Linked DNA regions of Homo sapiens. The protein of the gene in region 2 purifies or fractionates together with the protein of the main gene of each other region. This does not show direct contact. Each region holds a gene or a part of one and is shown on either strand. Other genes may lie near its edges.

Region 1 (3,688 bases), on a different chromosome or scaffold from region 2:
AGACGGAGTCTTGCCCTGTCACCCAGGCTGGAGTGCAATGGCATGATCTCAGGTGACTGCAACCTCTGCCTCCTGGGTTCAAGCAATTCTCCTGCCCCGGCCTCCCAAGTAACTGGGATTACAGGTGTTAGCCACCATGCCCAGCTAATTTTTTTGTGTGTGTTTAGTAGAGACAGGGTTTCACCATGTTGGCCATGCTGGTCTTGAACTCCTGACCTTGTGATCTGCCCACCTCGGCCTCCCAAAGTGCTGGATTACAGGCATGAGTCACCACGCCCGGCCTGTTTTTTTTTTAAATAGAGACAGGGTTTTGCCATGTGACCCAGGCTGGTCTTGAACTCCTGCACTTAAGCTCCTTGAACCTTGCTTGGGAGGCCTACCTCAGCCTCTCAAAGTGCTAGGATTACAGGTGCGAGCCACCTTGCCTGGCCCTTTGATGCTATGTTGATATTAATGACGAACTAAGTAGGCCAGTGAACCTGTTTTTTTATTGTTGAGTTTTTTTGTTTGTTTGTTTTTTGAGATGGAGTCTCACTCTGTCTTCCAGACTGGAGTGCAGTGGTGCGCTCTTGGCTCACTGCAACCTCTGCCTCCAGGTTCAAGCGATTCTCCCACCTCAGCCTCCTGAGTAGCTGGGATTACAGGTGCACGCCACCATGCCTGGCTACTTTTTAAAAATTTTTTGTAGAGACAGGGTTTTGACATTTTGGCCAGGCTGGTCTCGAACTCCTGACCTCAAGTGATCTGCCCGCCTTGGCCTCCCAAAGTACTGGCATTACAAGTGTGAGCCACTGCAGCCGGCCTATTGTAGAGTTTTGATCTTTAATTGGATGCCTACCATTATTGGGGGAAAAATTGGATTTTTCTCTACCATTCACTGAGCTTATTACACTAAATATGTATAGTACAAGGAAATTTATTGGTTTTTCAGAGGTCCTACTGTATATTAATATTTAAAATGAGGGAGAGAAAATTAACTTTTGTCAGCACTTTATCAGATTTCTGAAATGTCTGTGGTAAGGTATATTTCAGATTTGCATAGGAGTCATCATTAATACCTTCCCTTTATACCATGTGCCATTTGATGACCAATTCTGAGTCCTTTCTGTTACTAACAGACCTTTTCTTCCTCCTGTACTGCCCTCATCCTAGTTTAGGTTCCATTTTCTTATTTTTTTTTTTTTGAGATGGAGTTTCGCTATTGTTGCCCAGGCTGGAGTGCAATGGTGTGATCTCGGCTCACTGCAACCGCCACTCCCAGGGTTCAAGCTATTCTCCTGCCTCAGCCTCCCGAGTAGCTGGGATTACAGGCACCTGCCACCATGCCTGGCTAATTTTGTATTTTTAGTAGAGATGGGGTTTCTCTATGTTGATCAGGCTGGTCTCGAACTCCCGACCTAAGGTGATCTGCCCACCTTGGCCTCCCGGTTCCATTTTCTTATAAGTGGCTTACTTACCTCTTATCCTTGTTTCCTGACACTGCCTGTTCTAGTCCATCAACCACACTAGAACACCATTTTCCTACAATGCCAGTTTCATTTTGTCATCTGCTACTGGAAACTTTGCCATTTACTAATAGGAAAAATTCCATCATGGCCCTGGAATCCAAGGCTGAAACCTACTCTATCCTTTGCAGTTAGAGAGAGGGCCAAGAAAATGATCCTGAGGGAAGTCATCTAGTCACCAGGATCTAGGTCCTCATTTTGGCAGGCAGAGAAATCTGATTTTTTTCAGTGTATCCAGAGTTGATTAGGTCCCATTCATTGATTATTCTCTAATCAAATTCAGAAAAGACAGATACATAAACCAGTATGCCAGTTATTGCTCTTTTTTATTTTATTTGTTTATTTATTTGTTTTTTGAGACAGAGGCTTGCTGTGTTGCCCAGGCTGGATGGCAGTGGTGTGATCTCGGCTCACTGCAACCTCTGCCTCCCAGATTCAAGAGATTCTTGTGCCTCAACCCTCCTTGTAGTTGGATTTACAGGTGTGCATCATTGCACCTGGCTAATTTTTGTATTTCTAGTAGAGACGGAGTTTCATCATGTTGGCCAGACTGGTCTTGAACTCCTAGCCTTGGCCTCCCGAAGTGCTGGGGTTACACGGATGAGCCACCACCCCTGTCTGCCAGTTATTGCTCTTTAATGGGAAGTATGTCTGCATAGGTACTCATGTTGCCTTGTCAACACATCCTTCATGCTAGAAATTTATATGTCGAGCTATATTTTTAATCAGAAGATTGGAAAGTGTGGGACTAAAGCAGGAGAAGCAAAGCAGGGAATTGGATGATCTGTCTATGTAAGGAAGATCTAGACATGCAGATTCCTCACATCCCCACATCAAAGACCTGACGCTTTGCATCCTTCCCTAATCTTCAGATTAGTTTAGGCTCTTTCTTTCATGTACTCTCATAGCCCGTTGTACTTCATCATATCTTTTATTATACTGATATCTTTGGAATTATTTGTTTTTTCGTTTTGTTTTGTTTTTTGAGACGGAGTCTTGCTCTGTTGCCCAGGCTGAAGCGCAGTGGCGCAATCTCGGCTCACTGCAACCTCTGCCTCCCAGGTTCAAGCAATTCTTCTGCCTCAGCCTCCCGAGTAGCTGGGACTACAGGTGCGCACCACCATGCCTGGCTAATTTTTGTATTTTTAGTAGAGATGGGGTTTCACCATATTGGCCAGGTGGCTGGTCTCGAACTCCTGACCTCGTGATCGGCCCACCTCGGCTTCCCAAAGTGCTGAGATTACAGGTGTGAGCCACTGCACCCGGCCTGGAATTCTTTGTTTAATGTCTGTCAGTCTTATCAATTTGTAAGTTCCATGAGGCTTGGGATTCTGTCTGTCTTGCTCAGTCTATGTGTGTATATATATATATATATATATATATATATATATATATATATATATATATATATGTATATATGGTCCCTCAGTAAATATTTGATAGTGAATGAAAGTATGAATAAATAATCCATCTCCACTGGTTTAGTCCGTCCTCTCCCTGCACATCTCCCTTTAAAAAATTTTTTTTTCAGGCTGGGTGCAGTGGCTCATGCCTTTCATCCCAGCACTTGGGAAGGCCAAGGTGGGCAGGGTAGATTGCTTGAGTCCAGGAGTCTGAGACAAGCCTGGACAACATGGTGAAACCCTGTCTATACCAAAAAAAAAAAAAAAAAAAAAAGCAAACAAACAGAAATTAGGTGGGTGTGGTTGCATACCTGTAGTCCCAGCTATTCAGGAGGCTGAGGGGGGCAGTATCTCTTGACCCCAGGAAGTTGAGGCTACAGTGAGCTGAGATGGCACCACTGTACTCCAGCCTGGGTGACAAAGTGAGACCCTGTCTCAAAAAAAAAATGTTTTTAAATTACATTGCGTCATCTGACGTTGTTCATTGAGTTATAATGTATTTAATTACATTACAGTTATCTTTCATGTTGTTCTTATATCCTGGTAACTTTATTTGGATTTGGGTTTTCTCAACAGTTTACCCTGTTTACAGTCTTTAATGTTTAGGCTATAGTTAGTTCTAAGTTTCATCTGTTGAGTAATTGGTTTTGACCAGTTTTTCCTTCAGAGTCTAAACACATATGAGTACCTTATCTGCTTATTTCCAAACAGAAACCTTTGGCTTTAGAGTCATATTTTTTAAATGGTGAGTCTAAAATCAGTTTAGTAGGGGCCGGGCGC
Region 2 (3,688 bases):
CAAGTAAGGCAGAATCTGGGAGGCTTCTTTACATAGGTCTTTCAGGCACTGAGAGATTCTGCCTCAGTAAGTAACACTGTGGTTATTAGTATCAGTATTAAAAACAATGCATAATGTAATGATAGAGGACAGCATAATATGGCTAATGTAACACCTGTACAACATAGTAGCATATTATATAAGCTATACTTCTGATTTTTGTTTTATGTTTTTATCAAGTCACTACAAAACTGGATCACATATTTAGACTTATTTAGCAGAAAATCATATTTTCTTTCAAGTTAATCAGAATTAAAGAAGTAGGCTTTGTTGACTATAGAACCATGGGAGTGTCTTGTCAAGCAAAGGCAAAATATAAATTTAGGAGAGGTATGGGACAGTGGTAAACATGAGTTCTCTTTGGAAAGAAAGAACCAAGTTTCTAGGGCTGTTATTTGAAATATGTACTGATTATATTATATAGACTTAACAGTGATACACATAAAGAATCCCTTGCCAGACAAACAAGAAACTAATAACTAGAGTCTACTTGGAGGAGACTGGAGGAGAGTTAAGAACTGGATAAATGGAGAAGAATGGGGGGGAGAAATATTTTTATGCTATACAATTTTACACTACTATTTTTTGAATCATATGAATGTATTTTCTTTTTATTTAAAAGAGAAAGAGAAGGTGGCTTGGTACTGATACTTCCTTTATATCCTTGTAGCAATGAGTGTCCGTGTCTATATCTGATATGAGCAGAGGAAGCACCTTGAAGCTCTGAGGGATGAGGAATTAAATAGTTTTTATTGATAAATGCTGTCTGTTCACTGCTTGTGAGGGTGTGGATATTTCAGAGAAACAAAGCAAATGTGTAACTCATATCCTTCGACATCTGTCAATTTTTTATTTGTTATCTGAATTAACTGTGTGTAAAAATGAAATTAAATGTTTTCTTTAGAGCTAGAAATGGTAGCTCATGCCTGTAATTCCAGAGACTCAGGGGATTGAGGCAGGAGGATTAATTGAGCCCAAGAGTTTGAGATTTAAATGAGCCATGCATGATCACACCACTGCACTCAAGCCTGGCTACAGAGCAAGATCCCAACTTCAAAAAATGTTTTGCTTAAAAAATATGATGCACAGCTAAAAAAAATATATTAGACATGCTTAATACTGTAGGGGAGGTAGATCATGCCCACATAACCCATGGATCACAGTTCAGATGGATGTTTTGAATCTGTACTTGATCATGGGAGCAGAAGTCTCGGGTGGGAGGGGAGACTTTAAAATAATTTCAGTAACAGTTGAATGAAAGGACAAGAGCAGATCAGAGCTCTTTGCTGTATAATAGAGAAAAGAGAAACGCTGAGAGGAAGAGAAGGTTGGGAGGGTTCTTCCAACCTGAATATCAGCTAGGTAGATAGAGATAAACGGATGACTCAGAGAGGTAGCCATTTACTTAACTAGTGATCTGTAGAGGCGGTTTAAAATTCTGTGTGTACTTCATTTATTTTTTTTCATTCATTTTATTTTTTTCAAAAACCACTCAATCCTTAGGAATTACTCACAGCTGTGCTGTGTGCATTCTCTGTGGGCCTAGCAGGGAAGGGGACAGCCCTGTGGCAATGGGCATGACACGGATGCTCCTGGAATGCAGTCTCAGTGACAAGTTGTGTGGTAAGTACGGATTCCACAGATGTCTATCCTCTGATTTTAGAATTATGAAGGCTAAGGTCTCGGTAGATTCTAGAAGGAGGATGATTTGATTTCCAGTAGAAATGAAGACAGTGGTGATAAAAGGATGGGGACTAGAGGCCATTGTCTTTTTGGGGAGAGGGTAAGTGCTAATCAGTGATCCAGATGCTGCATCTTCAATCTTGGTAAGAAACTGCCAGAAGCAACGTCATGCACATTTGATGGGCTAAGAAACAGAGTCACTGGGGTTTCTGGTTAGAGAGTTGCTCCCAGCAGTGTTTCTGTTGAATGGAAGTAGAGGAGATGGTAGAAGAGATGACCTTTTCATGTATGATGAGCTGAGAGCTGGCGGGTAGGGGAAATTGCATGAACACCAGGTTAGGCTTCTTCATTCTCTTCTCTTCCTGTGTGATCGCCTACCCAGTCATCCAGGAGAAGCAGTATGAAGTGATTATCGTCCCAACTTTGTTGGTTACTATCTTCCTCATCCTTCTTGGGGTCATCCTGTGGCTTTTTATCAGAGAACAAAGAACTCAACAGCAGCGTTCTGGACCTCAAGGTAAAGCTCAAACTTTGGGGCTGGGCAGGGGCTTAAAGAAGATGGAGATTAGGAAAAAGTATGGTCTAAGTTTCAATGAGCCCATGTCTAGAAGTCTAGGTACCTGCAATGAGAGAGGCATGGGTTCCCTCCCATGGAGTTGAGAGGGGGATGATCTCTTTTCTAGGAATTCCCGAGTTGGAATTCAACACGTGCTTACTGACTGAAAAAAGAGTGTGCAAGAAAAACCTCATATAACCTGTTTCTATTCCTGTTGGACTATCAAAACTTTGACTATATGAGTGCCTAAGGACCTAGGAGAAAGACCTAAGGGGGTAAAGTCCAAGGCTTTATGAACATCCTAGGAGGATGACATATCACCCTATGATACGTTCCATTCCTAATCTTTGCCTCCAGGATATATGATGGAAAGGAGGGGCCTTTATATTATAACAGTCTTTGAAGTGCTAAGTAGATGATAACAGTCTGTTCTGGAGTTCCACTGAGCATATAATAAAAGGGAATCAATTCACAGATGAAACTCAGGGTAAAAAGAAGGAAAAAGAAAACTCTCATAATGATATGAAACTCTATAGTGGCTAATCCTTAGTTTTTCTTTAAATTTTATCCCAATAGTCTTATACTTCACTTTTATAGAAAACTTCTCAAACAAGTTGTCTAAACTCACTCCTACTACTTCTACTCATCACATTCTCTTTTGAACACACTAAAATAAGGTTTTCATCTCTACCACTTCGCCAAAACAAGTCTTTCCAAGGTCATCAATGACAGCTGCATTGAAAAGTCCAATGATCAATTCTTAGTCTTCGTCTTACTTGATCTGTCAAAAGCATTTGAAACAATTTTAAACTTTCTCTTTCTTGAAATACTGAAAAAACTAAAGCCACTTCCTAAATGCTATAATTTTTAGTCTTATGGATTCAAATACATTTTCTATTCCAATGATAGTCCCTTGAACTCAATTCTCATATTAAACCACCTACTGCACAGTTTCAATGGAATACAAATCTCATATGTAATATGACCAAAACAAAGGTCCTGAAATTCTCTCATAAATGTCCTCCGCAAATAGTCTTGCCTATCTTAGTAAATGGCAAGTCCTGTCTTCTGTGTTTTCAGTCTCAAACCTTGAAGATATCAGTCTCAAACCTTGAAACACAGTTTGAGACTGTGTTTTCAGTCTCAAACCTTGAAGATAACTCCTTTCTTTCTCTCACAGTCTGTATCTAATCCATAAGCAAACACTGTTACCCTATTTTCAAAATAAACCCAAGTTACTCTCACATCTCACTGATCACTGCAACACACTCTTAACATTCCCTGCTTCTGCCCCTACTCCTTTATAGAAATGCCAGAATGAGTCTTTTAATACAGTCAGTCCTGTTAGTTATCTGCTTGAAATCTCTCTTCCACACACACACATGCAGTAGCCTCCCACCTTGCTCAGAA

What was found. The genes of interacting proteins can lie anywhere in the genome.
Region 1: the proteins of STYK1 (region 2) and NUP205 purify together in Homo sapiens (affinity purification with mass spectrometry; one large-scale study listed by BioGRID and IntAct). This does not show direct contact.

What each region holds. Positions count from the first base shown.
Region 1 is NC_000007.14:135,564,266-135,567,953, forward strand, and holds part of NUP205 (nuclear pore complex protein Nup205), read left to right. Parts: intron 1-3,688. UniProt on the Homo sapiens protein: Plays a role in the nuclear pore complex (NPC) assembly and/or maintenance. May anchor NUP62 and other nucleoporins, but not NUP153 and TPR, to the NPC.
Region 2 is NC_000012.12:10,632,541-10,636,228, reverse strand, and holds part of STYK1 (tyrosine-protein kinase STYK1), read left to right. Parts: intron 1-1,542; 5' UTR 1,543-1,610; coding exon 1,611-1,662; intron 1,663-2,104; coding exon 2,105-2,239; intron 2,240-3,688. UniProt on the Homo sapiens protein: Probable tyrosine protein-kinase, which has strong transforming capabilities on a variety of cell lines. When overexpressed, it can also induce tumor cell invasion as well as metastasis in distant organs.